Linked DNA regions of Homo sapiens. The protein of the gene in region 3 purifies or fractionates together with the protein of the main gene of each other region. This does not show direct contact. Each region holds a gene or a part of one and is shown on either strand. Other genes may lie near its edges. The genes, in order: EPN1, SMAP2, SLC2A14 and WDR73.

Region 1 (5,409 bases), on a different chromosome or scaffold from region 3:
GAATATTTGTTGTTGTGGGATATATATATATATATATATTTAGAGTGTTGTGGGATATATATATATATTTAGAGACAAGGTCTTGCTCTATCACTAAAGCTGCATTGCAGTGTGTGATCATAGCTCACCATGGGATTCTTGATTTTCAGTGAGTATAAAGTGTAAGACAAAATAAGTCTTAGTTCAGGTATGCTGGATGGGAAGCCAGAGGTCTGCATAGCAGTTACAAAGAAGGCCTTATTATCTGGAAGAAAAGGGACCATAGAATGTCCATTGGTTGGGGAACAACCCAGCTTTAGTTTTTCCAGATTCTCTGCATGTGCAGGTTTATGAGACTGGAGAACTTTGATTTCTTCTTCCTCCTCCTCCTCTCTTTTCTTCTTCCTCTTCCTCCTTTTTCTCCTCCTTTCTTCCTTTATTTTTCTTTCTTCCTTTCCTCCTCTTTCTTCTCCTTTTTCCTCCTCTTTTCTTCCTTTCTTCTCTTTTTCTTCTTCTTTTTTTTTTTTTTTTAAAAGACCGTGTTTCGCTCTGTCACCCAGGCTGGAATGCAGTGGCGTACTGTTTTAGAAAAGTGAAAGAGGGCCGGGCGTGGTGGCTCATGTCTGAAATCCTAGCACTTTGGGAGGCTGAGGCGGGTGGATCACCTGAGGTTGGGAGTTCGAGACCAGCCTGGCCGACATGGCAAAACCCTGTCTCTACTAAAAATACAAAAATTAGCCGGGCATGATGGCAGATGCCTGTAATCTCAGCTCCTCAGTAGGCTAAGGCGGGAGAATCGCTTGAACCCAGAGGCAGAGGCTGCAGTGAGCCAAGATTGCAGCATTGCAGGAAAGAGAGAAAAAGGAGGGAAGGGGAAGGAAAAGGAAAGAAAGAAAAGAGGGGAAGGGAAGGGAGAGATTTAAAAAACAATAGTAAAGAGAGATTTAAAAAACAATAGTAAAGAGAGATTAAAAAAAAAAAGTAAATGGGCCAGGTGCGATGGCTTGTGCCTGTAATCCCAGCAGTTTGAGAGGCTGAAGTGGGAGGATCACTTGAAGCCAGGAGTACCAGACCAGCCTGGGAAACATAGTGAGACCCCGTCTATACTAAAAAATATTTAAATGGGCTGAGCGCGGTGGCTCAGGCCTGTAATCCCAGCACTTTGGGAGGCCGAGGCAGGCGGATTACCTCAGGTCAGGAGTTTGAGACCAGCCTGACCAACATGGCAAAACCCCATCTCTACTAAAAATACCAAAACAAAAACTAGCAGGGCATGGTGGCGCATGCCTGAAATCCCAGCTACTCAGGTGGCTGAGACAGGAGAATCACTTGAACCCAGGAGACGGAGGCTGCAGTGAGCCGAGATTGTGCCACTGCACTCCAGCCTGGGCGAGCAACAGAGTGAGGCTGTCTCTCAAAAAAAAAAAAAAAGGAACGGTAGTGTGCACCTGTGGTCCCAGCTACACAGGAGGCTGAGGCAGGAGCATCACTTGAACCCAGGAGTTCAAGGCTGCAGTGAGCTATGATGGCACCACTGCCCTCCAGACTGAGCCAAAAAGCAGACCCTGACTCTAAAACAAAAGAAAGAACAAATAACAAATGAAAATAAATACCCAAAAACCAGTCAAATGTGAAACTGGTGTCAGGGGTATGTTCTCCATGTTGAGCCCCTTCTGTGGAATATGACAGTGTCTCTATTTCGGGTAAAGGAAAGACCAAAATAACTTTCCAAGATGAAAAGCTAAGAGTGCTGATCTCATCACAGACATAGCCAGCTCTTCAGTTCAGACCACCTGGAAACCCTCCCCATGTCTTTTCAGAACAATGTCCTAAGAACCATAGGGGAAGTGGCCATAAAAACCATCTTTCCTTTGCAGACTGGGGTGGGGACTCTGGCCAATGCCATTCTGTTCTTCCATAATATCTTTCCCATCTTGACTGAGCATCAAATGAGGCCCACACACAAGATTCTCACCCACATGGCCGTGGCAAACTCCTTGGTTCTTCTTTCCACTGGAATCCCCCACACAATGGTGTCTTTTGTCCTATGGAAACCCTTGTCCAGTCTTGAGTGTAAACTCGTGTTTACAGGTCTTAAAGTCCTGACCTGGTGATCCGCCCGCGTGGACCTCCCAAAGTGCTGGAATTACAGGCGTGAGCCACCACTCCTGGCCTATGCCAGCATTCTTTAAAGTTGTGGGAAAAGGCCAAAAGCAAATAGAAAATTGGGCAAAAAAGTTCATAATTGCTTAAACATATGGAAAACCTGGAAGTAAAATTAAGCAAGTAAGTGCGAGCACTCTACATTGAAGATTATAGAAAATTCAGCCTCCCAAATATCCAAAGAATCCAGGAGTGTGCCAAGAGATCCAAGAGTAGGTCCACAATTTCTCATTCTCAGGAGAATCTGAGATTATATTTCAATCTAATGATAACTGATTATATAATCCAATTTCTGCATCATCTTGCTTTTATGTTTTGTAATAAAAATTTTAGACCAGGCCAATAAGGCATCAGCAATTTACCGTAGGGAACTAGGGAATGTTTAATTATGACAATGAAGTGTTTAATATTGTGTTTTGAAATATAAACAGTGTAGATATATTTGAATAATACTGAATTTTTAGAAAAATCTATTGGGGTGTCATATATAAAAGGATAAGTAGAGATTTGGAAATGCTTTTTTATTGGACAAGAAAATTGATCAAATCGAAATCTGGACAAACTAGAAAGTCTGGATGCTAGCAATACAATCTATAGACACATTCTAGCATCACTTCTGTGTCAGAAGTATCCGGATTGTGGTGCCTACAAATGCATGCTCCTACACACCAAGACATCCATTAAGAAAATAAAGCCATGCTTTCCAGAGCGTTTAGCACTTGTTTAACGTACTTGTGCTTCTAAATATCACAAGGCAGGATGGGATTTCTAAAGACAAGGGGATATAGGACCGAGGCAAAGACAATCAGCATGTACACTGAATCACACTCCATAATCATATTGCTAGAACACTTAGGGAGTACCTCTGAAATCACAGCCCTGCTGCCATGATGTGCAATTACAGGATAGAGGTGCCAGGTGAAGGTCCCACTGTGGCCAAGGAAAGCCTTTGTGAGACGACTACTTCAGGGTGTTCCCCATCAGAGGAGCACACCCCTGATCTTGTATTCCTCGTCAATCCAAGGTCCATGTGAAATGGTCAGATGGGGAATTTTTTCTTCCACAGACATCAGGATCTTCTGAGTTTCTTCATCAAAGCCAGATTTGTGCAGCCTGGGAAAATAGAAATAAAGTTTTTTTTTTTGTTTTTCATTTTTACACAGTATTGCCTCTCTACATTCTGATGTCTACCTCTCCTCTCCTCTTTATTCTTTCCTAGAAATCACTGGGAGAATTGTACTGAATTTGAAAAACAAGCATGAATCTTTCCTATAGGATAGGAAGCCTCTGATTTATACCATAAAGTGAAATTTCATATACAGGATGTATCAATTAAGATTTAATTCAAAAAAGATGAATTTAAGTTAAAAAGAAAAACACAGGATAACTTCCATTCATCTGATGTTCATATGCCCTGGCACATCTATTGCTTCTTATAATGTGCTTGCTTAAAAAAAAAAAACATGAGCTTTTCTCAGAGACACTAATATAATGAATTCATGTACCCATCACCAACTTCTACAATTACCAATATTCAGCCTCTTCCATTTACAACCTGCCCATTTTCTAAGAAATAATTAAAGCACATGCTACACCCATAAATATGTCAAACGTTCTTGTCTGTTTTCGCTATTTTCAGTTCCTTTCGTGTCATTGTCCCCTGAACCCACCTCAACAAAGCTGGTTTTTGTAGTCACCAATAACATCAATTTGTTAAATACATTCTATCCTACTTACCCAGTTAGCATTGAATACAGTTAATTACACTTTCTTGTTTATTTTTTCCCTTAGCTTACTGGACACGACTTCCTCCTGGCTTCTACTCCCTCAACAGCTATCGTTCTTGCTTTATACGTTGAATCTCTGTCTCTTTATAACTTCTAAATGTTCTCAGCATCAGGAAAATATAAAAAATAAGTTCACAAATAATTGGTAAGACTGGAACATAGGCCTTCCTGAAAGAATATAACTAACATTTGCAATTCTCTTCTCCCCTCTCCCGTGTCCTTCCTTCTTGCCAGGTGTTCATAGTTATATGCCTTTTTATCTCCAATTATAAAAAGAAGTTGAGGAGGATTAGCAGGTCACAAAATTTCGTAGACATTTAGACACAGGAGAAGTAGGAGTTTATCTTAAATCTTCAGAGGTAGGGAAGATGGCTAAGTTTCCTTTCAGCTACAGCGACACTATGAGAAAGTTACCCAGAAATAACTGCTCTGAATGCTTGCTACTGTGGAGATGACATGTTTTGGGTGTGGGGATGGTGGTTGAAGAGAAGGGAGACATTATTATTATTATTTTATAATGCAGGCCTTAAGTACCTGGCCTGTCCCTATGGGGACTGGGTCTCTGTCTCCTCTCTGAATTCATTTTTCCCTTTCTCTGCTATACAGCTCCCCGGGACTCCCTTCTGGCCCTGCAGGGTACAAGGCCTGGCCCCATCTCAGGGCCTTTATGTTTTGCTGTGCCCCCTTCACTTGGGGTCCTCCCTAGACATTCGTGATATGGTTTGAATCTGTGTCCCCACCCAAATCTCATATTTAATTGTAATCCCCAATGTTGGAGGTGGGGCCTGGTGGGAGGTGACTGGATCATGGGGGTGGATCCTTCGTGAATGGTTGAGCACCATCCCTTTGGTGCTGTTCTCATGATAGAGTTCTCACGAGATCTGGTTGTTTAAAAGTGTGTGGCATCCCCCCTGCTTCCTTTCCTCCTGCTCCCGCCACCAAAGACGTGCCTATTTCTGCTTCACATTCCGCCATGATTCAAAGTTTCCTGTGGCTACCTCAGAAGCAGAAGCTGCTATGCTTCTTGTACAGCCTGCAGATGCATAAGCCAATTAAACCTCTTTCCTTTATAAGTTACCAGTCTCTGCCAGGCATGGTGGCTCACGCTTGTAATCCCAGCTCTTTGAGAGGCTGAGGCAGGTGGATCACCTGAGGTCAGGAGTTCGAGACTAGCCTGGCCAACATGGTGAAACCCCGTCTCTACTAAAAATAGAAAAATTAGCTGAGCATGGTGGTGAGTGCCTGTAATCCCAGCTACTTGGGAGGCTGAGGCATGAGAATTCCTTGAGCCCGGGAGGCAGGGGTTGAAGTGAGCTGAGACTGTGCCACTGCACTCCAGCCTGGATGACAGAGCAAGACTCTGCCTCAAAAAAACAAAACAAAACAAAACAAAAAAAAAACCTTAAACAACATATTGTGAACTTTTCTTAGAGACACTAGCATAATGAATTCATGTACTCATCACCAACTTGAACAATTA
Region 2 (8,601 bases), on a different chromosome or scaffold from region 3:
AACATCTAAATGTAAAACAAAACCACAAAGTAACCTTAAGAATACAGAGTATAGCATACATATGAAAAACATGTTTGGTCTTGCCAGTGATAAAAAATGCAATTTAAAATGCACTTTATGCAGGGAGAAAGATCTTTCTATAATGGTGGGAGGGATGAAGTGAAACCAGTACTCTTATACAATGCTGAGAAGAGAGAGTAAAATGGTACAAATTCTGGAAAGTATATTGGCAAAACTAGGAAGAGACAAATGTTGAAATCCTTTGACCTAGATGATACCATATCTTGTAATGTATCTTACGAAAATAGTCCAAAATATGAAAAAGGTTAAATGCACCAAGTTCACCCCAGAATTATTTATGCTAAAAAAAATTAAATAACATTTATGCCACAGAAGGGAAATGGTAAATAAATTATTACTTTCAGTGATTTAGCTACTCACTGAAAGATGATGCAACAATTAAAAATTATAAACACTATATAAGCAACACAGAAATATATGTTAAGTGGAATGAAGGCACGAGAAGTCTACATAACTGTATTATAATTATGCCTCCAAAAAGAAACTATTTAGAAAAAAAGGGGAACACACCAAGAAGATAATTATTAGCAAAGATAGTGAGAGTATGTATGGATATTTCACTTTAATTTTCATTTTCTCTAAAATAATTTTATAATCAATACATGCAGCTGTTTTTCTCATACAAAGTGTATGTCTTTAACACGACATTTCATTTAAGTTAAAAATGTTTTATCTGTCCATTATAAAAAGAATAGTTTTTAACAAAGCCAGTTTCTTTTCATTTGATATTAAACGTCTTCACTTAGCAAATACTAATTATTGGCATAAAAATCTTCACAAAATATGAAAAAAATCTAAGTACATTAAATAACAAATTCTGAAATAGCTTTTTGGTAAATGGGAGGTTATTTCCTTCCTAAGAGAAACATCCGGTAACCGGGCTTGCTTTCATGGGTACAGTATACCAGCAATGAAATCATGAATACCCTGAGGGCAGAGCTGCTGTTTCCACAATAGCTGTGTACAAATAGCAACTCTACTCCTTCGTCATCTGAATTATCTCAGATACCCTTTTCTGACCTCATCTGAGTTCATATCTTTAGGCACAATGAACAGAGCTGGGCAGACAGACCACAGTTTTCTACAAATAAAACGAAATGTGTATGCTTGGGTTCTAAACTGTTTTTGATGATGCCATGCAAGCTGTAGCTGCACACTGGGTTCTTTCTTGGCACAGATATGATATTGACAAGTCCCTTTTCTGGATAACTGCAAGGTAAGAGTCCTTCATACACAGTTGAGAAGGAATCATTTTTACCTAACTATATGTATTACACTTACTTGCCTGTGTTGAAATTCACCTACCAGTTAATGCCCCTTTCACACAGCTTCATAAGATCAGCCTGAAGTGGATTCCAATTAGCTTAACTTTTAATTACCCAGAAGGGCTTGGAGCTCAGTGCAAACAGTGATTTCACTGGCTATTATATCATTATTACATAACTAGAATAGATGATAGATAGGTAGGACCTGCGCTGGAAGTGGAGAATCCCTTACTCTCAATACTTCTGTGACTAGATAAATAGCCAATTATTCCTAAGAGAATTTTCTGTAGAATCTTGTCAAAGGTTATTTAAAGGTATAAATAGTCATATCTATTGGTTCTCCATTAGCTGTCATTAGTTAGGCATATTTTCCTCTTTCAGAAATCATGCTGTCTGTCCCCCTGTGTGTTATATTTGTCCTAGTTATCATATACTGTATTGCAGATTCTAAACATGCCTAGGATGGAATGTGTTCTTGGCAACTGGTAGCCAGTCTCCCTCTGAAACCCTTCTCAGAAACAAGGGTCCCATTGGCAATCAGTCCAACACACTGGTTATCAGCAGGTAATGCTGGAAATATACATTGGTCAAACTGAAGGAAACTCTGGTGATTTAATTACACCTACTTTTGTTGATTTCATTTACAGGAAAAAAGTATATATGTGTGTATATATCTATGTAGATAGATATAGCTGTAGTACATATACACATATACTGTTTTATTTGATCTAGTATATGCAACATGTCCATCCCAAGAAATAATTCAAAACTGGGAATCATCACTAACACCTTCTAACTACAGATTAAGGCAAGAATTCACCGATAGGCAGAAGTTTGTTTCTGCCTCATGGTCTTGACTCAGTAACTGGCACTTTTTACTTTTGCTTAAAAATTTATATTGAGACAGGGTCAAACTCCGTTGCCTAGACTGGAATGAAGTGGTGCAATCACAGCTCACTGCAGCCTCAACCTCCCTGGCTCACGTAATCCTCCGACCTCAGCCTCCCAAGTAGCTGGTTATTACAGGCATGTATACCACCATGCCTGGCTAATTTTTAAATTTTTTGTAGAGATGGGGGTCTTTCTTTGTTGCCCAGGCTGGTCTTAAACTTCTAGGTTCAAGTGATCCTCCCACCTCAGCCTCCCAAAGTGATGGGATTAGGGGATGAGCCACCACACCTGGTCTACTTTTGCATTTTTTAAAAGATGGTTTTGGAGTGTTTTGGTAGCAGTTCTTCAACGTGTTCTCTGGCCTGATTTAATAAGCACATTACTTATTGTGGACAAAACTTGAAAGATGTATAACCAACCCTAAAGGCATTGATGTCCAGACTTCGGTCCATGTATTTCTTCTTCTCATATTTGTCTCGAATAAATCCTTCAACAGCTCTGCAAAAAGCTTATTAAGGATGAATCCAACAAGCCTCTCAAACAGCAAGAAGATAAAAGATCAATTGTGTTCCACGGAGCATTGTTCTCCTCCTTCCCTCTTGCCTGGTTTCCCCACATGGCTCCTGCCTCTTCATATGCAATTTCTCTGACCAAAACCTTAAAATGCCTCTTTCACAGTTAAAGCAGGGAATCATTACTTCCTATGCTTTCCCTTCAGCGTGATGATAGCAGCAAGTGGAATTAACCTTCAAACTGACATTAGAGGCTGTATGTGGCTGTTCTAGAATATAGGTAAAGCAGTCAAATGTCTATTTTAAAGCACTTAGGTCAATAGGCCTCAAACAAAGGCACGTAAGTGCCCCTTAAAAACATAAACTCTTGTGCCCCACTGCCAAATTCTGACCAGTGGGTCTTCTGCAAGGCCCCAAATCTGCATTTAACAGGTTCCACCTGAACCCATTAAAAAAAAAAGAACCTTAACAAGATGATCTACAAACTACATTTTGAGAAGCACTGCCTTTAAGGGATTTGGTTTTGTGTCCTAGGTGCTATGCTCTGTTGAACAGATGGTGGAAGAAAGTTATTGGTTATTGACAAACTGGTAAACAACAGTTAATTCTTTCACCCAAGACATAAAAAGATGATAAAAATGAATGGCAATTTTGCTGACTGCCAGGGTTAACAGAGCACAATGAACTACTCTTTTTAATCAAACAATAGTTTCAGAGATCCAAAATAAACTAGTGGAGATGTAACTTTATAGAAGAATTCACAGTGAAATCACTGCAGTCTTAATTCCAGAGTGAGTCTTCTTCAAGTGACACCGTATGACAATTCCGACATTCACAAATACATGTGCTTTTTGTGCACCTTGATTGCAGGACAGAGGACAAGCAAGGACACTGACTAATCCACATAGAGATGACCCAGTCACATTACAGGACTGGAGTCTTGTCTGACTCTCCCCAAGCATCAAAATACCACTCAGCCTTCTAAGTTGCTCCAGAAAAGATACGGGTCTATCTGAGGTCGCCGAAAGGTCTCAGGAAGATAGGCTTCATAAAGTCGGTTTGCCTTTCCATTTCCCATCTCTTGCATGCACTGTGACCAAAGAGAATGTAGAAACATGGAACGTCAGATCAAGAAAGAACTGAAAAACTTCTCACCCAATTCCACTACTGTACAATTGAAGAACCAACCTAGAGAGTGTCAGAACCAACATTTAAACTTGTGTATTCTGATTTCCAATTCATGATTCCCTCTACCTTACTAGGATTTCCCAATCATTTGCCCCAAGCTGTCTTTCCCCCACTCCATAGGTTCCTTTTACTGAAATATTTGTGTACCAAGATACATTCAATTCAGTAATAAATCAAGATCTCATTTGAAACTCTTAGATACACAGCTACCAATTAAAATGTCTACTTGGCAGGCAATGATCAGTGTTATCATTCTGAGTTTATACTATTAATCAATTCCAATAAATGTGTTTCCCATTAGGCTTTTAAGTAGACTCCTTAACACTTGTGAGGGATAAATCCCAAGAGCTTTTTAAATCTCCAAATTCCCGACTATCTCCATGGCATATAATTTCCTTCATAAAACAGAGTGAAGTGTAACTGAAAAATGTAACTCACCTTTTTAGACCTTTAATACATCTATAAATACAATCTAAAGCAATTTCTAAAGCCATTTTCTGGTTAAGCGTAACCTCTGATTTCCATTACCAACTTTAGCAACTGGATTTGGGGGGCGGGGGGCTTCCCTTTTACTCCCAAGAAAGAAAAAATTGAAATTAAAGCGTTTCAATGTAGGAAGAGAATAAAAAATAATGAAGCTATATCAAGGTACAGCTCTTAGGCCAGCCAGACTCATTAACTTAGGAGTCTCACTCCAAGCCCACCAAGCTAACAGCATGCAAGATTCATGTATGCATTCCAGCTGTTACAGCTTTTTAAAGATGATAACAATAAATCTAATATACACATTGTCCTATTTAATATACTTTTAAGGTTAATTATGTTTAAATTTATTTAAAATTTTTGAAATTTTAAATGTTATCTAATTCCACATTTGTATGTGTCTAAAAATATCAGAAATGATGAGTTTACAAAAATGGATACATTTTAATATTATGTACCATTAAAATATTTTCTCTGTCTTAAAAAAAAGATTCATGTATGCATTTTAGTAATAAAATTTTCCCATAAGTCTATGATTTGGAGGTTTTTTTAAAAAGTGAATTTTTATTTATTTATTTTTTTGAGACAGGGTCTCACTCTATTGCTCAGGCTAGAGTGCAATGGCATGATCATGACTAACCGCAGCTTCAACTTCTGGGCTCAAGCAATCCTCCCACCTCAGCTTCCCAAACTGCTGGGATTACAGGTACGTACCACCAGGCCCAGCTAATTTTTTAATTCTTTATTTTGTAGAGACAGGTGTCTCACTCTGTTGCCCAGGCTGGTCTTGAACTCCTAGACTCAAGAGATCCACCCACCTCGGCCTTACAAAGTGCTGGGATTACAGGCATGAGCCACCGTGCCCGACCAAAAGTGAATATTTGAAACTATAAATTTTAGACCTGCAAATGCTAAGAGTCTTAGAAAATCACCCAAAGATCCCTCTTAATACTTTCGTGGGCCCATGGAATCCTAGACCGTAGACTATTTCTGTTTTTAAGGAGGTAAAATATAGGTAGAATAACTTGTATCTTAAATAGAAAGAATAAAAATTTCTGTTAGGGTACAAGAATCTGATGTTAAGTGTTTAACAACTAAATTTTCCTTTATCTTCACCTTTGTGCCAGGTTTGACTGAAATTCATCTGGAATTCCTTTTACATAGATATATGGAAGCAGCTGACTCACTCTTGGGCTAAGTACCTGAATCTGTTCTTGAGTCCACTGGTCGAGGTTAACTGACTTTACCCTGGATATGTGCACCCCCAGATTCCTGTGGATTCCAGCACATCGAATGCAGATGAACACACCAATGTTCCAAGAGGCCCATCGCGGCCCTGTGAAAGTCAGGAACAGGGCAATAAAGTACAAATTACAACATTCAAGGCCTAAACTACAATATTAGATTATCAGACATTTCTGCTAGAACATAAGTGAAATAATTTTTACCATAACCACCTGTTTATTGACTCTGCTCATTCCTCCATGTGTCAGCTTTTCTTTAGTTTAAATTTAAGTGTACAATACAGTGGTTTTTAATATATTCACACAGTTGTGCAATGATTACTACTATCTAATTCCAGAACATTTTCATTAGTCCAAAAGAAATCACAAACCCATTAGCAGGCACTACCCATTTTCTCCCAGCTCTTCCTCCCAGCCCCTGGCAACTATGAATCTACTTTTTATCTCTATGGATTGCCAATTCTGGGCATTTAATATAAAAAGAATTATATAATAAGTGGGCATTTGTGCATGGTACAATTTTTTTACAGTGTCTGCTAATATGAGTGTTGAAACGCAGATGTTATAAGACTGTTACTTATATTAAGAAAAATCCCAGGAGTGCAAAGCCATGTCATATTCTATTTGGCCGAGCACCTTACATAAACAGTCCTCTCCCAAGAGACGTTTTAGTGGTGATGGGCCTGTATTCACCACTTTTTAGTGGTGGCCTGTATTCGGTTTTCCTACCAGGAAAAAAGATAGATATGGCATGCTTGTCCATGGCTCAACCTGTAATTGAAACTGTGTTTATCTTCCCCCCAACCCCAGGCCTATAAAATATGCATTCGCATTAACTTAATAGGATCTTTTCCCCTTAGGCTGATGTTCCTACTTTACTCAACTACTGAAGTATCTTGTTTCAAGATTGCCAAATAATAAAGATGCTTATAGCAACAAAAAAGAAATCTCAAATATGAATTTTAATTCAAAACTGTTACAGAATCTCCCATCCCCTGCCAGTGTTACTCATCCTAATAATCACTCTGAAAAATTATCATACTCCTCTTCATAATTTTTACCCAGGAAAGAAAAATGACTTATATGAAACCTGCCAAAAACTTACTAAAAAATCAGAAATACTTCCTTCTCCATTATCCCACTTGGCAGAAATTTACCACATAAAATAAGTGTGATATAAAAATTAGAGGATGCAATAAAGAGGTGAAAAGACACTGATTTTCTACAGAGATAAACAGGGCCTACGCTTGGAACGACAACGAGCACAAGACTTCAGTTCTTTAGGACACAGACAATTATTTGGTTAGCTAGCAGGTTTTTAATTTTTTAATTTTTATTTTTAGAGGCAGTCTCGCTGTCACCCGGACAGGGAGTGCTGTGGCACGATCATAGCTCACTGCAGCCTCGTCTTCCTGGGCTCAAGCGATCCTCCTGCCTCAGCCTCTGGAGTAGCTGGGACTATAGGCGTGTGCCACCCTGCCTGGCTAATATTTTTATTTACTGTAGAGACTAGGTCTCACTATGTTGCCCAGGCTGGTCTTGAACTCCTGTCCTCAAACAATTCTCCCACTTTGGCCTCCCGAAGTGCTGGGATTACAGGTGTGAGCCATTGTGCCTGGCCAGCCTGAAGGTTTTGACAGCAGTTTTAATGAAGGAATGCTAGAATTGTGTGGCAGAAAATTAGTTTTAGAAATTTGAATTCATGATTATTACAAATAAGAATGTAATTTTTTGACAAAGATATCACTTATTTACTATCGCAAATACTGCAACAGAAGGCTCACATTCTCCTTATTACCACCAGGTGGTGCTCTCCGCCTGAAATTTTATCCCAATACCTTATTGCTATCACAAGCTCCGATTTACCTTCTAAAAAGATATTTAGTCCCTTCACATTCCTAGATGGATTTACATAGTTGGTCCGCCATGTATCTAATAAACACAAAAATGATTCGCACACTTGTTTCATGTGGGAGAGTGTCACGTCAAACACAAAATGAAAACCCTAAACTGATGTAAATGGGGTTTCTTAACATGTGGTATATCCATTTTAGGTTACAGTTTTCATAAAGGAACTCCAATAAGATCTAAGTTATATAAGATTTAAAATGGCACCAAGTTAATATTTCATGTTTCTTAAAGCACTTTTCCTTTGCTCTAGATTCCAGAGTCTAGAACTCATAAGACAAGTTAAGATGTATTTGTTTGCTAACAAAGTCAGAAGCCAAACACATTCATTAAAAATTAAAAGTCAGCTGTGAAATGTTACACTGTTTGCTTCCTGGCCTTAAGATGGGAAAAGGCAATTCCCAATCATCTAAGCCACTGTCACAGCTCCCACTCCAGCGTACTTAAAGTCTTTTTGCTTCTGAGGAATGCAAGGCTAAGACTTGGAGCCTTGGGGTGACTCTGAAGCCACTGACAAGGCCTCAGTACAGAAATACAGGCAACTGTATTTTCATGAAAAGCCAAAGAACAGCCTCTTCTCCCCACCAAATCCCTACCTGACATCCCTTGTGAAACCTTTTCCCAGTGAATATAGTGATAGTTATATCCCAGATACTCAATCTCTTTTAGTTTTGAGCCACTAGATTTATTAGTGAATAACTACATGTTCCATAAAATATTCTGAAATTAGAGAAAAGAAAAATAAAAGAGACAAATGTTACTTATATGGCTGAAAACATGGGGAAATGGTGTAGTTACTTTTATTTCATTTTATTCTTTACAGACAGGGTCTCTCACTCTGTTGCCCAGGCTGGAATGCAGAGGCAAGATCATGGTTCACTGTAACCTCAAACTCCTCGCCTCAAGCGATTCTCCCACCTCAGCCTCCCATGTAGCTGGGACTACAGGCATGCAACACCATGCCCAGCTAATTTTTTAATTTTTTTAAAGACAAGGTCTCCCTATGTTGCTTAGGCTGGTTGTGAACTC
Region 3 (8,601 bases):
AAAAAAAAAAAAAGAAAGAAATACAAAAATTAGCTGGGCGCGGTGGCAGGAGCCTGTAATCGTGCCACTGCACTCCAGCCTGGGTGACAGATTGAGACTCCGTCAAAAAAGAAAAAGAGAAAGGAGATAAGATTCAGAAGATAATTCAGGGATATTAGGATTGAACAAAAATTGTAGTAAAAGGACTTCTTACCTCCTGGGACTTTTAAGTATTTTTTAAATTTTATTTTATGGTGACAGAGTCTTGTTCTGTCTGGCCTCCCAAGTAGCTGGGACTACAGGTGTGTGCCACCATGCCTAGCTAATTTTTATATTTTTAGTAGAAACAGGGTTTCACCATATTGGCCAGGCTGGTCTCAAACTCCTGACCTCAGGCGATCTGCTTGCCTTGGCCTCCCAAAGTGCTGGGATTACAGGCCTGTGCAACCACGCTCAGCCTTAAGTATTTTTTGAGGGTTCTGTGTAAGTGGTGTGCAGAATTTTATCAAAGCTGCATGTTTTCTTTTCTCCTAGGTGTTCTATTACTCAACAGGAATCTTCAAGGATGCAGGTGTTCAACAGCCCATCTATGCCACCATCAGCGCGGGTGTGGTTAATACTATCTTCACTTTACTTTCTGTAAGTTGGATGGTTTGATAATTTTGGGGGGAGAAATGAATCCTTGCTACAGATGTTCAAAGATGGATTGCATGGCTCCACCGTTATTTAGTTACACCTTTTTTGTTATTTATTTTTATTTTTTTAAATTTTTTGAGACAGAGTCTTGCTCTGTTGCCCAGGCTGGAGTGCAGTGGTGCAATCTCGGCTCACTGCAACCTCAGCCTCCTGGGTTCAAGTGATTCTCCTGCCTCAGCCTTCCGAAGTAGCTCGGATACAGGTGTGCGCCACCACGCCCAACTCATTTTTGTATTTTTAGTAGAGACGGGGTTTCGCCATGTTGGCCAGGCTGGTCTTGAACTCCTGACCTCTGGTGATCCACCTGCCTAGGCCTCCCAAAGTACTGGGATTACAGGTGTGAGCCAGCGTGCCCGGACTGTTGTTTAATTTTCCTTTGGAAAAAAGAGATACATTCAATGCTGAATGTAGTCTTCATTCTTCAAGCAAATATGGATGGATGGGAAAAGAGGAAGTATAGAAGGGACTATACAGTATGTTTTGAACTTGGAATTGGAGGAGAGGTGTTTGGAAAAACTTTCAAACTGTTATTCCTCTGTTTTTACACTAAAACAACAATAATAACAGAAGATTTCTGTGACCCCCAAAATATATAAGGATTTGTCCCCATCAAGTAAGCAATCAGTTCCGTAGTGGACACTATCTAGGTGTCCTGTGATTTAATTCTGACACTACCTGGAGATAGCATCAGAGCTCACAGGTTGGTGGCCGATTTCCCAAGACTGCCCCCAACTCCTGATGCCAGTCACAAGCTCCAGGTTGTTTTACCTGTGCTTCTGACTCACCAGCTGTAGATCAGGATTCCCACGACATCCTCTTTGGGTTTGATTAATTTGCTACAGTGGCTCACAGTACTCAGGAAAATTGTTTCCTAGTTTGATTTAAAGGATATTTTAAAGCACAGAAATACACAACCAGATGAAGAGATTCACAGGGCGAGGTCTGGAGGGATCCTGAGCATGGGAGCTTCTGTCTCTGTGGGGTTGGGGTGCACTCCTAGCACATAGATGAGTTGTTGCTGACCTTCCTGTCAGCTTCCACGGGTTCAGATATCTGGAAGCTCCCCATACCCTACCTTTTGGGCCTTTTATGCAGACTTAATTGGTTCTCCATGATTGAAGCATGGACAACTGTTCTGACCTGTGATTGGACAAAAAGGGAATGATCTGAACCCAGCTGGGCCTGTCTGCTTAGATGATTTGTTGGCCTCTCTGTAGCGTTTCTTCCTCTAGGGTGTGGGGCAGGACCCTCTCTGAAATGAGGGTTTTATGACCCACAGTCAGATTAGCGTCCTGCCAAGTGGGAGGGCAGGAGAAAGTCAGAGAAGAATTCTGTTATCTGAGGCCTGCTCCTGAGGCCTGAAGCATCCCAACATTATGACAAAAGACTCTACCAAGGGCTATGGGGATTTTGAGCCAGGACCTGTGAATGGCACACAATATGTATGTATATAAAATCATAAATCACAGGAGGGGTATCCATAACAAGTGTCCTGCTGTTGGTAAGGCAGATTTCAAGTAGCTCAGATGCTGTTTTCATGGAAAGGAAAACTGAAGTTTCATGTCATATTCTTCTTCCAGCTATTTCTGGTGGAAAGGGCAGGAAGAAGGACTCTGCATATGATAGGCCTTGGAGGGATGGCTTTTTGTTCCACGCTCATGACTGTTTCTTTGTTATTAAAGGTAAGTGCTCTTTGGGTGAAAAAAAAGGGAGGGGGAAAGAAGAGAGGTTACAGTTGACTTCTGTGACACAAGGGGTGGGTTGTTAAGGTTGCAGTTTGTCAATAAAGTCAGAGGAGAGAAGCAAGATGCCCAGAGTTTTTAAGAAACATGGGTCATCAGAGAACTGGAGGTAAACTGTTAGAATCTTTACATTTAGAGAACATTATTATGGTTTATAAAATAAGTTATCTAATTTAATTCTTTTGTTTGTTTGTTTGTTTGTTTGAGACGGAGTTTTGCTCTTGTTGCCCAGGCTGGAGTGCAGTGGTGCAATCTCAGCTCACCACAACCTCTACCTCCTGGGTTCAAGTGATTCTCCTGCATCAGCCTCCCGAGTAGCTGTGATTACAGGCATGCACCTCCACGCCCAGCTAATTTTTTATTTTTAGTAGAGACAGGGTTTCTCCATGTTGGTCAGACTGGTCTCGAACTCCCAACCTCAGGTGATCCACCTGCCTCAGCCTCCCAAAGTGCTGGGATTACAGGCATGAGCCACTGTGCCCTGCCTAATTTAATTCTTAAAATAATATCAAGGTAATCACACTTTATGGATGATGACGGGGTCTCAGTACAAAGTGACATATATGAGATCACATAGATGGGATTCAAAAATCCAAGCCTGGCTGGGTGCAGTGCTTCATTCCTGTCATCTTAACACTTTGGGAGGCCAAGGTGAGAGGATTGCTTGAGCCCAGAAGTTCAAGACCAGCCTAGGCAACATGGCAAGAAACTGTCTCTAAAAAAAAAAAAAGTATTTTTTTGTTTTTGTTTTTTGTTTTTTGAGACAGGGTCTTGCTGTGTCACCCAGTTGGGAGTGCAATGTCGCCATCTTGGCTCACTGCAATCTCTGCCTCCCAGGCTTCATTGATTCTCCTGCCTCAGCCTCCCTGGTAGCTGGGATTACAGGCATGCGCCACCACACCCAGCTAATTTTTGTGTTTTTTAGTAGAGACAGGGTTTCACCATGTTGGCCAGGCTGGTCTCCAACTCCTGACCTCAAATAATCCACTCACTTCACCCTCCCAAAGTGCTGGGACTATAGGCGTGAGCCACAGTGCCCAGCCAAAAAAACAACGAAAACCTTTTGTTTAATTAGCCAGGTGTGGTGGCACATGCCTCAAGTCCCAGCTATTTGAGAGGCTGAGGTGGGAGGATTGCTTAAGCCCAGGAGGTCGATGATGCAGTGAGCTGTTATAGCACCACTGCACTCTAGCCTGGGCAACAGAGTAAGACCCCGTCTCAAAAAATAAATATAAAAATAAAAATAAATCCAAGCCTTTTGATTCCACAGCCACTCTTTGTATTGTACGTCAGGACAGGAGGAGCTTGCCATTAGTTGCCTCTGGGAACCTAGATCCTGGGTTACACTGTCTTTAAATTTAATCTTCTGTGTTCCTTCCTCTTACAGAATCACTATAATGGGATGAGCTTTGTCTGTATTGGGGCTATCTTGGTCTTTGTGGCCTGTTTTGAAATTGGACCAGGCCCCATTCCCTGGTTTATTGTGGCCGAACTCTTCAGCCAGGGCCCCCGCCCAGCTGCGATGGCAGTGGCCGGCTGCTCCAACTGGACCTCCAACTTCCTAGTCGGATTGCTCTTCCCCTCTGCTGCTGTAAGTAAACTCACCTTATCTATGTATCTATGTATCTATCTATGTATCTGTCTATCTATCTATCTATCTATCTATCTATATATATATATATTTTTGAGACTGAGTCTCGCCCTGGTGTGCAGTTGCCCGATCTCAGCTCACTGACAAGCGATTCTTCTGCCTCAGCCTCCTGAGTAGCTGGGACTACAGGCACCCGCCACCGTGCCCAGCTAATTTTTGTATGTTTAGTAGAGATGGGGTTTCCCCATGTTGGCCAGGATGGTCATGATCTCTTGACCTGGTAATCTGCCCGCCTTGGCCTCCCAAAGTGCTGGGATTACAGGCGTGAGCCACCATGCCCGGCCAACTCACCTTATCTTAAAACCAGCCTACGTAGGCTGACATATTGAAGATACACCTTAATAATACAGTAGTCAGGCTGGGCGAGGTGGCTCACTCCTGTAATCCCAGCACTTTGGGCGGCTGAGGCAGGCAGATCACCTGAGGTCGGGAGGTAGAGACCACTCTGACCAACATGGAGAAACCCTGTCTCTACTAAAAATGCAAAATTAGCCGGGCATGGTGGCGCATGCCTGTAATCCAAACTACTTGGGAGGCTGAGGCAGGAGAATCGCTTGAGCCCAGGAGGCAGAGGTTGCGGTGAGCTGAGATCGGGCCATTGCACTCCAGCCTGGGCAACAAGACAGAAACTCCGTCTCAAAAAATATATATAATAATAATAGTAATACAGTAGTCCCTCCTCATCTGCAGTTTCAGTTACCTGCAGTCTAAAAATATTAAATGGAAAATTCCAGAAATAAACAAATCATAAGTTTTAAATTGCACCCGGGAGCAGTGGCTCAAAGCCGGTAATCCTAGGACTTTGGGAGGTGGAGGTGGGCGGATCACTTGCAGTCAAGAGTTCGAGATTAGCCTGACCATCTGGTGAAACACCATCTCTGCTAAACATACAAAAATTAGCCAGGCGTGGTGGCACAAACCTGTAGTCCTAGCTACTCGGGAGGCTGAGGCAGGAGAATCGCTTGAAACCAGGAGGTGGAGTTCGTGGTGAGCCAAGATCTTGCCATGACACTCCAGCCTGGGTGACAGAGCTAGACTCCATCTCAAAAACAAAACAAAACAATTTACGAATAGAGACAGGGGCTTGCTATGTTGGCCAGGCTGGTCTCAAACTCCTGGGTTCAAGTGATCCTCCCACCTCAGCCTCCCAAAGTGCTGGGATTACAGGCAGGCACCATGGTGCCCAGTTTAAGAATATATCTTTTGTCCATAAAATTGTGAAGAAGAAAAAAGAAGATGGGTGAGATGGCTCACGCCTGTAATCCCAGCACTTTGGGAGGCTGAGGTGGGAGGATCATGAGGTCAGGAGTTCGAGACCAGCCTGGCCAATATCGAGAAACCCCGTCTCTACTAAAAATTCAAGAAATGGCCGGGCGCGGTGGCTCACGCCTGTAATCCCAGCACTTTGGGAGGCCGAGGCGGGTGGATCATGAGGTCAGGAGATCGAGACCATCCTGGCTAACAAGGTGAAACCCCGTCTCTACTAAAAATACAAAAAATTAGCCGGGAGCGGTGGCGGGCGCCTGTAGTCCCAGCTACTCGGGAGGCTGAGGCAGGAGAATGGCGTGAACCCGGGAAGCGGAGCTTGCAGTGAGCCGAGATTGCGCCACTGCAGTCCGCAGTCCGGCCTGGGCGACAGAGCGAGACTCCGTCTCAAAAAAAATAAAAAAAATAAAAAAAATAAAAAATAAAAATTCAAGAAATTAGCTGGGTGTGGTGGCAGGCGCCTGTAATCTCAGGTACTTGGGAGGCTGAGGCAGGAGAATTGCTTGAACATGGGAGGCAGAGGTTGCAGTGAGCCAAGCTTGCACCATTGCACTCAAGCCTGGGCAATAAGAGCAAAACTCCATCTCAAAAACAAAAACAAAAACAAAAAAACAAAAAAAAACAAAACTGGCCAGGCACGGTGGCTCACACCTGTAATCCCAGCACTTTGGGAGACCAAGGCGAGAGGATCACCTGAGGTTGGGAGTGCAAGACCAGCCTGACCAACATGGAAAATCCCCACCTCTACTAAAAATACAAAATTTGCCAGGTTTGGTGGTGCATACCTGTAATCCCAGCTACTCAGGAGGCTGAGGCAGGAGAATCGCTTGAACCTGGGAGGCGGAGGATGCTGTGAGCGGAGCTCATGCCATTGCACTCCAGCCTGGGCAACAAGAGCGAAACTCCGTCTCAAAAAAAACAAAACAAAACAAAACTGGATAACTGGGGACTACTGTAATTACTGACGCTATGAAAGATTAGACATCAAAGGCTATAAACCAGATTTTCAACAATACATAGAAAAAAAATGACGGCAGAAAAGATTGAAATGGGATGGCAAAACTGGGAACCATTCATTTTTTATTATTTGAGACGGAGTCTCACTTTGTTGCCCACGGTGGAATGCAGTGGCTCACTCTCGGCTCACTGCAACCTCTGCCTCCTGGGATCAAGTGGTTCTCTTGCCTCAGCCTCCTGAGTAGCTAGGATTACAGGCACGTGCCACCACTCCCAGCAATTTTTTTTTTTGTATTTTTAGTAGAGACGGGGTTTTGCCATGTTGGCCAGGCTGGTCTCAAACTCCTGGCCTCAAGGGATCCACCTGCCTCAGCCTCTAAAAGTGCTGGGATTACAGGCATGAGCCACCACACCCAGCTCAGCAACACAGATTTTAAAAATAATACTCAAGGCCAGGTGCAGTGGCTCACGCCTGTAATCCCAGCACTTTGGGAGGCCAAGGCAGGCAGATTACAAGGTCAGGAGTTTGAGACCAGCCTGGCCAATATGGTGAAACCCCATCTCTGCTAAAAATACAAAAATTAGCCAGGCGTGCTGGTGGGCACCTGTAGTCCCAGCTACTCAGGAGGCTGAGACAGGAGAATCGCTTGAACCCAAGAGGAGGAGGTTGCAGTGAGCCGAGATCCTGCCATTGCGCTCCAGCCTGGGTGACAGAGTGAGACTCCATCTCCAAATAATAATAATAATAATAATACTCAAAAGTCCAAAAATACTCAGTAGACATTTGGAAGCATCTAACTTTAATGAAAAAAAATGACAGAAAGAAAAATACAGAGAAATATAGTAAGTTAGCAATAGAATCATAAGTAAATCTCTGAAGAAACCTTTATGTTTTCATTAAATATGGAAGGGTTATAGCTTGAAGCCTATTGGAAATATGAATGTGAAGGAAATTGTATTTGTCAATGACCAGATTTTTATATCAACCTTCCTTTTTTCTGTCCTTTCACTAGTACTATTTAGGAGCCTACGTTTTTATTATCTTCACCGGCTTCCTCATTACCTTCTTGGCCTTTACCTTCTTCAAAGTCCCTGAGACCCGTGGCAGGACTTTTGAGGATATCACACGGGCCTTTGAAGGGCAGGCACACGGTGCAGATAGATCTGGGAAGGACGGCGTCATGGGGATGAACAGCATCGAGCCTGCTAAGGAGACCACCACCAATGTCTAAGTCATGCCTCCTTCCACCTCCCTCCCGGCATGGGAAAGCCACCTCTCCCTCAACAAGGGAGAGACTTTATCAGGATGAACCCAGGACTGCTTCTGAATGCTGCTACTTGATTTCTTTCTCATCCCACGCACTCCATGAGCACCCCAAGGCTGCAGTTTGTTGGATCTTCAATGGCTTTTTAAATTTTATTTCCTGGACATCCTCTTCTGCTTAGGAGAGACCGAGTGAACCTACCTTCATTTCAGGAGGGATTGGCCGCTTGGCACATGACAACTTTGCCAGCTTTTCCTCCCTTGGGTTCTGATATTGCCGCACTAGAGGATATAGGAGAGGAAAAGTAAGGTGCAGTTGCCCCAACCTCAGACTTACCAGGAAGCAGATACATATGAGTGTGGAAGCCGGAGGGTGTTTATGTAAGAGCACCTTCCTCACTTCCATACAGCTCTACGCGGCAAATTAACTTGAGTTTTATTTATCTTATCCTCTGGTTTAATTACATAAATATTTATTTTTTAAGTGTAATTTTGCCAAATAATAAAAACAGAAGGAAATTGAGATTAGAGGGAGGTGTTTAAAGAGAGGTTATAGAGTAAAAGATTTGATGCTGGAGAGGTTAAGGTGCAATAAGAATTCAGGGAGAAATGTTGTTCATTATTGGAGGGTAAATGATGTGGTGCCTGAGGTCTGTACATTACCTCTTAACAATTTCTGTCCTTCAGATGGAAACTCTTTGATTTCTCAGAAAAGTTGTATGCCTATTTAATAAAGCTACTCATTTCCTTTGGAACTTTATCTTTAAGATAATAGTTTACATGTAGTAGTACTTGAAATCTAGGATTATTAACTAATATGGGCATTGTAGTTAATGGCGGTTGATGGGTTCTAATTTTGGATGGAGTCCAGGGAAGAGAAAGTGATTTCTAGAAAGCCTGTTCCCCTCACTGGACGAAATAACTCCTTGTAGTAGTCTCATTACTTTTGAAGTAATCCCGCCACCTATCTAGTGGGAGAGCCATCCAAATGAGAAACCTAAAATAATTGGTTCTTGGTAGAGATTCATTATTTCTCCACTTTGTTC
Region 4 (8,601 bases), on a different chromosome or scaffold from region 3:
AAGGCTAATTCTGGACAAGTATTAGCTCTTTTAATCCTCAGAACTGTATGACACAGATACTGTTATTTTACCCAGGAAACTGAGGCTTAAGAGACTTCTTCAAACCTTTTCAAGTTGCCCCAGAGTCCAGTCCCCTACCTCTGGGTCCCTTTCAGCAGATGGCCTTGTCTCCTACTCGATGGGGGAAACAGAAGCCTTTGGAGAGAAATACCTTCACGTCCCTGCACGATCTAGCTGCACACACACTCATTCCATCCTGCCATCTTCCTGGTACTGAAGAGCCAGCCCCTCTACCTGAGCTTGGCTCTTCTGTTCTTTCTGGATCCTGGCATTTCCAATCATCCTTTCTTGCTCTCTTAATGATTTTTTTCAACCCCCACCTGCCTCGACGGATCCTTCCTGTTGGCTTTTAGATACCCACATTAAGTGCCGCAAGCAACTAGCTACCACCAGACCAGAACCAGGGGCCTGCTGACCTAGCTGGCTTGCTACTTTTTTTTTTTTTTTTTTTTTTGAGACAGAGTCTTGCTCTGTCGCCAGTCTGGAGTGCAGTGGCGTCATCTCAGCTCACTGCAACCTCTGACTCCCGGGTTCAAGCGATTCCCCTGCCTCAGCCTCCCAAGTAGGTGGGACTACAGGCGTGCACCAAAACACCCGGCTAATTTTTTTTATTTTCATAGAGACGGGGTTTCACCATGTTGGCCACGATGGTCTCGATCTCCTGACCTTGTGATCCACCCGCCTCGACCTCCCAAAGTGCTGGGATTATAGGTGTGAGCCACCGCACCCGGCCAACTTGCTACATTTCAAAAGGCAAGTAGGCTGAGAAGTACCCTTGAGGTGCTGTCCCTGCTGCTTTTTTTTTTTTTTTCTTTTTTTTTCTTTTTGAGACAGTCTCGCTCTGTTGCCCAGGCTGGAGTGCAGTGGTGCAATCTCAGCTCACTGCAAGCTCCGCCTCCCAGGTTCACGCCATTCTTCTGCCTCAGCCTCCTAAGTAGCTGGGACTACAGGCGCCTGCCACCATGCCTGGCTAATTTTTTGTATTTTTAGTAGGGACGGGGTTTCACCGTGTTAGCCACTGTCCCCTTTTCTTTCTGACCCAGCCCGATGTCTGTCCCAGTGTCTTACTGTCTGCAGGCCCCTCCACCAACCTGAGACCTGAATTCCTGCTAGGCTAGGAAAGGCCTGCTGCCAATGTGTGGAAGTTTAGTAGCCAGGGTAGGAAAAGGCCTGCCACTGAAGAACCTGGAGAGTTCGAATTTCTCTGTGAGCAACTTTAACTCCTGGAGCCAGGTTTATCATGGTGCTGGAGGCTCCTTCCTGAGCACCCAACAGTCTCCTGGAAGAAAGAGATCAGATAACAAGACGAAATCCTGCTCGGCAGTACCTGAGATGGCCAAGCAATTCTTCAGGCCTGGGGCCCAAGTCACTCGCAGCAGCTCTGGGTCAGGGCTAGGTACGGATACTGGGCACTGGACTGAGCTCACAGGATGGCAGAGATCCCGGGGGTCAAGAAGACAAAGACGCCCATCTGAGCCAAGGCTGGCAATGCTGGGCCCAGGGCCCTGGCCCCAGCTCCCAACTTCAGCACACCATCTCTCTCCACCAGACCCAGGGCCAGGGCTGCGATTCTCCAACGGTGCCCACTTCTGCCGGGTGTCAACAAGCCCCAGCCGGCCTGAAGCACAGCAGAAGGCAAAGGTGTCTGCATCTAGGACCTGCAGGCTACTCAGCTCCTCACTGTCACTGACATCTGGAAGACCGACAGCAAAGGAGACAAGCGGCTGGAGGCAGATGGGTCTGGCAATTTGGCAGGGCTGGCTGGTCACAGGTCCCTTCCCACCAGTCCCAGGCAGAATAAATCACATCTCCCTTCCCACTCATCTCACCATTGTCTGCTCAGCTGGTTGGGTGCTGGTCCCTGGGACTGCCTAATCCTGCCCCAGCATAGGAGCCCTTAGAGGCCAGGGCTTACCTCTTATTCACTGTGTATCCCCAACACCTGGCACAGAGAGTTGAACTCAGTTTTTATAGTGGCTGAGTTGGGCTGGGGGGTGATGCCGGCTGGAGCAGCAAGCAAGGGACAAAGTACCACGGTACCTGAGGTGTACGTGGTCTTCCGGGACTCCAGATCAACGACCTGCAGACTTCGGAGCCTCGCCCCATGGAGGACTCCGGGTGCCAATGTGGAGAAGACGGCCACCCTAGGCCAGAGACTCTCCTCTTTCTCATGCACAGCAATGGTGCTGACAGCTTTAATGACATCTAGGGGAAAACGAAGAGGCCAAAATCCAGAACTTTAATGAAGGTTTGAAACATGACAGGCTGCCAGCTGTCTTCCCCTGTACATTTAGAAGATCAAGGAAGAAAAGGAGCTGCCGGCTGGCAAGAGATGATGTTGAGACATAACTACTCTGGCTTATGTTTACATTTTTGAAACCATCAGAAACATTTCAATTTCTTTATTATTTGTCTTATAAACTGTTTTTTGCAAATGGAAGACAATGCCATCTCAAAACCCAAAAAGCAATTCTGGCTTTTTATACTTTTGTGGAGAACAGGTAGAAGACAAGAAAAGGAATGAACATGCTGCTGATGTCACTTACCCCTTCAGCGACAAGAAACAGGTACAGAATTCATGAACTGATATTATTTCTTCAAAAACATGTTCCATGACCTCGAGTGACTTGCTAAAGCCTAGCAAGTACAGGTCACATTACAGATGTCATTGTCTTGTAAGGTGGACAAGAAAGTCCACATCTTTTTTACACTGAATGGAACATCCTTGGCTTTGAGTCAAGTTTTGTTTTGGTTCTTTTGTTTTTTTGAGACAGAGTCTCACTCTGTTGCCCAGGCTGGAGTCCAGTGGCACAATCTCAGCTCACTGCAGCCTCCGCCTCTCAGGTTCAAGAAATTCTTCTGCCTCAGCCTCCTGAGTAGCTGGAATTACAGATGTGCACCCTCATGCCCAGCTAATTTTTTTGTATTTTTAGTAGAGACGGGGTTTCGCCATGTTGCTCGGGCTGGGCTCAAACTCCTGGTCAGGTGACCCACCTACCTTGGCCTCCCAAAGTGCTGGGATTACAGGCATGAGCCACTGCGCCCAGCCAAGTTTTAGTTTTTATTTGGTTGTCTCCACCTGCTTGGTTAGCAGGGAGGTTCTCCTCTCTGTATTCTACATCTGAGGCTTCTCTTAATATATGCTTAATGCTGCCAAAGAGGTGAGCTCACCTGAGCAGCCTAAGCTCTGCTGTTGCCACTGCCCCTGCCTAGGGAGAGTAGTTCTCTGGATGAACTCAATTCCAGGAGCAGGTTACAGGAAGCTCCATTTGGGGCTTGGATGCCATGCTATGGTTGCTAATTCACCTTGTCTGCATTAAAGTAGATTAATTCCCACCTGGCTCTGAGTCTACTACTACTTTTTTTTTTGGAGACGGAGTTTTGCTCTTGTTGCCCAGGCTGGAGTGCAGTGGCATGATCTCGGCTCACTGTAACCTCCGCCTCCCAGGTTCAAGCAATTCTCCTGCCTCAGTCTCCCCAGTAGCAGGGATTACAGGTGCCTACCACCATGCCCGGCTAATTTTTTGTATTTTTAATAGAGACAGGTTTCACCATGTTGTACAAGGTGGTCTTCAACTCCTGAATTCAAGTGATCCACCCAGCTCAGCCTCCCAAAGTGCTACAATTACAGGCATGAGACTGTCCCCAGCCTGAGTCTCCTTCTTAACTGGCTCAGATTAGGGGACAGGGGTGTATGAGTCACACTTTCCTAGAACCCCAAACCCCATCAAGTCAAATTCACTCACCACTGTCCTCTGCAACCTGCCACACCTGCAGATAACAACCTGGAAGGCCACTGGTAACCAGCAATCTATTCAGAAAAGACAAAATCAGTCCAGACCATGGGGAGCTTATCCACACAGGTCCCTTCCCCTTTCCAGCACACTTAGCTTGGGACTCCACTTCCCATATCAGGACATCTTACTGCAAGATCATCAAGGCCAACCACCCTCATTTCACAGATAAGGAGCAGGCTCAATCAACTTTAGGGAGACTGAGCCCAAGCTTCCATGTGTCATGATGGTCACCTACAGAGGACACAAGTATGGGGCCAAACACAACCTGACCCAGAGACTCTTGGCCTCTCCCAACTGAGCAATTATCACCCAAGAGCAATAGAAGAGCATCTTTCTGTCCCGTATCTATTCCCTGGAGCAACTCCGGTAGAACTGTTACTTACATTAGTCCAAGGGCTCTGGGGGGCTATGAAGCCACAGCAGTGGTTTCTTTGTATTCTAAATCTGTGTGTATCTGTGTGCACACACTTGTGCACTCACATGTGCCTGTGTGCTGAGGGGGTGGGAATGGAGATGAGGAGGCAGAATACCCCCAGGCATTTGCAGCCATCCCATCCCATCCTGTGTGGATGGCTGGATCACAAAATTGACCATACCTGGTATGTGGCACATGCTTTAGATCAAAGATAGACCTGTCTGAAAATCCTCCATGGCGCACTTTGAAATCTCTTTCTGGGAATAAGCCCTAAAATACAAAGGAGTAGCCAATCAGAGCCAGCTCTTCAAATGAACATTTCAGAGGAACTCTAAGTGAGGAGTCAGGTCCTAGCCTGGCAGGAGGCCATGGAAGCCACTCAGCTGGTGAAAGGGCGTTGGTGTCCTGGTATTTGGCAATGTTGGTCTCAGCTGCCTACACGTACAGCTTCCTTTTTCCTTTGCACATCCAAAACCCTTCTCCTAGCCTTTCACTAGCCCCTTTTACTACAGCACAAGCATTATACTCCAGGCCTTCCTAGAGAAGCCAGAGAAGCTTAACAGCTTCATCAAAGAGAGCAATGAACACATCCCCATTTCTCCCTCCATTCTCCCGCTGGAAGTCAGGTGGGTTCCTCTAACGATAAAAATTAACAATTACAACTTATCAGTATTCACTGTGTCAGGCGCAGTGTTTAGGGCTTTATCACATTTAATTCTTACAACCTCCTATGATATAGGTACTATAATTATCCCTATTCTACAAATGACACAACTAAGGCACAAGGAGCTTCAGCCACTTATATAAGGTCATACAAGTATTAAGTTGTGAATTTGAACCAAAGTCTGTCTAACCCAAGTCCACACTGTTAGCCACTAGGCTCTACTATCTCCATGTAAGGAACCAGAGGCAAGGGAAAAGGAGGTGGCCATAGAAGAAACAAGGCAAAGCTGGTGGTGAGCGGGGAGGTTAAATCAGTTCTCACAGCTAGGCTCAGTCTGGGTGAACCCCTGACTCAAGCCTGACTGGAGATGGGGAAGATGAAGAACACTAGGTGCTACCCTATAGCTTCTGTAGCCTCTGGGTTTTATGAGTACAAATTTGGCTTTTTTTTTTTTTTTAACTTTTTTTTGAGACAGAGTCTCACTCTGTAGCCCAGGCTGGAGGGCAGTGGCGTGATCTTGGCTCACTGCAACCTCTGTCTCCCCAGTTTAAGCTATTCTCCTGCCTCAGCCTCCTGAGTAGCTGGGACTACAGGTGTGCACCACCACACCCAGTTAATTTTTGTATTTTTAGTAGAGACAGGGTTTTGCCATGTTGCCCAGGCTGGTCTCGAACTCCCAACCTCAGGTGATCCGCCTGCCTCAGCCTCCCAAAGTGCTGGGATTACAGACATAAGCCACCACACCTGGTCTTTTTTAACTTTTTAAATTTTGTGAAGAGATGGGCTTGCCATGTTGTCCAGGCTGGACTTGAACTCCTAGGCTCAAGCAGTCCACCGCCTCAGCTTCAAAAAGTGCTGGGATTACAGGTGTGAGTCACCATGTCAGTCTACAAACTTGGCATTTTTCCTAAGCTTTCCCTCTTGAGATTATAATTCAGTATGTTTGGGAAGTATGCTAGGAATATGCATTTTAGCCAGCACTCCTAATGGCCCTGGTAGGGTGGTCCTCAGGCTACTTTGATAAAAACTGGGCCACATCTGCATGGGATCTAGCCTCTCCCAGGCTGAACAATGTTTTTCTATGTCCTTGTCTAGCCTCTTAGCCTCTTCTCTTCTAAACAATTAGACTCAACTCCATAACATGGTGAGGCCCTAAGATAAATTTATTTACTTATTTTTGTGAGACGGAGTGTCATGCTGTTACCTAGGCTGGAAGTGCAGTGGTGCCATCTCAGGTCACTGCAACCTCTGCCTCCTGGGTTTAAGGGATTCTCTGGTGCCTCAGCCTCCCCTGAGTAGCTGGGATTAAAGGCATATACCACCACACCCGGCTAATTTTCTTTTTCTTTTTCTTTTTTTTGAGACGGAGTCTCACTCTGTCACCCAGGCTGGATGCAGTGGCTTGATGTTGGCTCACTGCAAGCTCCACCTCCCAGGTTCAAGCAATTCTTCTGCCTCAGCCTCCTGAGTAGCTGGTACTACAGGCGCATGCCACCACACCCGGCTAATTTTTGTATTATTAGTAGAGATGGGGTTTCACCATATTGGCCAGACTGGTCTCGAACTCCTGACCTTGTGATCCGCCCACCTCAGCCTCCCAAAGTGCTGGGATTACAGGTGTGAGCCACGCGCCTGGCCAAATTTGTTTTATTTTTAGTAGAGATGGGGTTTCACCATGTTGGCCAGGCTGGTCTTGAACTTCTGGCCTCTAGTGATCTGCCCACGTTGGTCTCCCGCTCCCAAGGTGCTGGGATTACAGGCATGAGTCACCGCACTCGGATTGTTTCCTATTTCATTAAATAATTTAAAACAAAACAAAATAAAAAAGGCCAAGTGCGGTGGTTCACACCTGGAATCCCAGCACTTTGGGAGGCAGGAGGATTGCTTGAGCTCAGGAGTTTGAGAACAGCTTGGCAAGACCCCGTCCCTACCAAAAAATACAAAAATTAACCAGGTGTGGTGGCACATGCCTGTGGTCCCAACTACTCGGGATGCTGAAGTGGGAGGATGGCTTGAGCCCAGGAGGCAGAGGTTGCAGTGAGCTGAGATCGCGCCACTGCACTCCAGCCTAGGTGACAGAGTGAGACCTCAAAAAAAAAAAAAAATTTTTTTAAGAAGTTTGGGGCCAGGAGTGATGGCTCATGCCAGTAATCCCAGCACTTTGGGAGGCCGAAGCAGGCGGATCACTTGAAGCCAAGCGTTCGAGACCAGCCTGGCCAACACAGTGAAACCTCATCTCTACAAAAAAATTTAACAATTAGCCAAGCATGGTGGCACATGCCTGTAGTCCCAGCTACTTGGGAGGCTGAGGCGGGAGGATCACTTGAGCCTGGGAGGTTTAGACTGTAGTGAGCCAGGGATCGCGCCACTGCACTCCAGCCTGGGTGACAGAGCAAGCCCTTGTCTCAAAACAAAAAGGAATTCAGGAGCAAACACTCAAATTCCTGCCCCCACATGGCCCTTCAAGGTCATCTGCCTGCATGCCTCACTCCTCCCTTGTCCTCTGATGACTAATACCATCCCCTGGACTCCTGATCTATCCTCACCTTCTATTCCTGGAAGCAGGAGCGTGTTCCCTGTGATATTCCCTCATTTTCACCCTCTCCCTCTTCAAGGGTTACTTTCCCATAGCTTCTAACTCTGCTCAAGCCTCTGTGTTTAGGAAACCTTCCCTCAGATCTGTGTTTCCGACTAGTTGCTGCTTTAGCTTCTTCCCTCCCTACATTTCGTGACTCTGCTTCCTCTTCATTTTTAGTCTTTGGGCCTGACCACCACCAGCAAAAATCCTGTAGCAGAGGTCACCAAGAGTTTCCCAATTGCCAGTCTTATGAATGAACTCAATTCCTCATCTGAATGATTTTTTTTTTTGAGATGCAGTCTTGCTGTTGCCCAGGCTGGAGTGCAGTGGCACGATCTCAGCTCACTACAACCTCCGCCTCCCGGGTTCAAGCAATTCTCCTGCCTCAGCCTCCTGAGTAGCTGGGATTACAGGTGTGCGCCACCATGCCTGGCTAATTTTTGTATTTTTAGTAGAGACGGGGTTTCACCATGTTGGTCAGGATGGTCCCGAACTCCTGACCTCATGATCCGCCCAACTCGGCCTCCCAAAGTGCTGGGATTACAGGCGTAAGCCACTGCACCTGGCCTTCAATTCTTCTCTCAATGATTTTATTGGAACTCTAGACAGCTACTAACTCTTTTTTTCTTGAGAAGTTCTCTTCTCTTGGCTTCAGAAACATTGACCTTTTCTGAGATTCCTCTTACCTCAGAGGCTGTTCTTTCTTAGTATTCTTTGGGGAGGGGGGGTGCATCTTCCTGTACTCATCCCTTAAATGTGTTCCCTGAGGTTCCGTCCTCACTATATTCTCCTCACTCCTTATATACCACACATTCACTAGGTGACTTTAATCACTCTACGCATTTCGACCGCCCTCTATATCCTTAATCGCTCCCTAAATCTATTTCTGATAAAGTATAACTGACCTCCTCCTCTGATAGCCCTCTGTAAACCACGAGACATTCTACAGCATTTATCTCTGTGCATATGTGCCTCCCTCTGTTAGACTAGAAGGGCAGGCCTAGCGCTTTCTCTCTTTCTAGTATCCAGGACAATACCTGGTAGATAACAGGAGCTCCACAAATGTTTAATAAATAAATAAAAGTTG

What was found.
Region 1: the proteins of SLC2A14 (region 3) and EPN1 purify together in Homo sapiens (affinity purification with mass spectrometry; 2 studies listed by BioGRID and IntAct, with this or other methods). This does not show direct contact.
Region 2: the proteins of SLC2A14 (region 3) and SMAP2 purify together in Homo sapiens (affinity purification with mass spectrometry; 2 studies listed by BioGRID and IntAct, with this or other methods). This does not show direct contact.
Region 4: the proteins of SLC2A14 (region 3) and WDR73 purify together in Homo sapiens (affinity purification with mass spectrometry; 2 studies listed by BioGRID and IntAct, with this or other methods). This does not show direct contact.

The regions. Positions count from the first base shown.
Region 1 is NC_000019.10:55,705,790-55,711,198, forward strand, and holds the end of EPN1 (epsin-1), read left to right. Parts: 3' UTR 1-3,122; coding exon of another isoform or gene 3,123-3,255; 3' UTR 3,256-3,744; downstream 3,745-5,409. Other genes in the region: NLRP9 (NACHT, LRR and PYD domains-containing protein 9), read right to left, coding at 3,123-3,255. UniProt on the Homo sapiens protein: Binds to membranes enriched in phosphatidylinositol 4,5-bisphosphate (PtdIns(4,5)P2). Modifies membrane curvature and facilitates the formation of clathrin-coated invaginations. Regulates receptor-mediated endocytosis.
Region 2 is NC_000001.11:40,403,891-40,412,491, reverse strand, and holds part of SMAP2 (stromal membrane-associated protein 2), read right to left. Parts: intron 5,757-8,601; coding exon 5,623-5,756; intron 3,840-5,622; coding exon 3,754-3,839; intron 2,736-3,753; coding exon 2,657-2,735; intron 1-2,656.
Region 3 is NC_000012.12:7,813,238-7,821,838, reverse strand, and holds part of SLC2A14 (solute carrier family 2, facilitated glucose transporter member 14), read left to right. Parts: intron 1-513; coding exon 514-618; intron 619-2,255; coding exon 2,256-2,357; intron 2,358-3,804; coding exon 3,805-4,008; intron 4,009-7,304; coding exon 7,305-7,523; 3' UTR 7,524-8,601. UniProt on the Homo sapiens protein: Hexose transporter that can mediate the transport of glucose and dehydroascorbate across the cell membrane.
Region 4 is NC_000015.10:84,644,084-84,652,684, forward strand, and holds part of WDR73 (integrator complex assembly factor WDR73), read right to left. Parts: intron 4,543-8,601; coding exon 4,454-4,542; intron 3,872-4,453; coding exon 3,807-3,871; intron 2,266-3,806; coding exon 2,101-2,265; intron 2,003-2,100; exon of another isoform or gene 1,890-2,002; intron 1,754-1,889; coding exon 1,388-1,753; intron 1-1,387. UniProt on the Homo sapiens protein: Component of a multiprotein complex required for the assembly of the RNA endonuclease module of the integrator complex. Associates with INTS9 and INTS11 in the cytoplasm, stabilizing the INTS9-INTS11 heterodimer and blocking the active site of INTS11.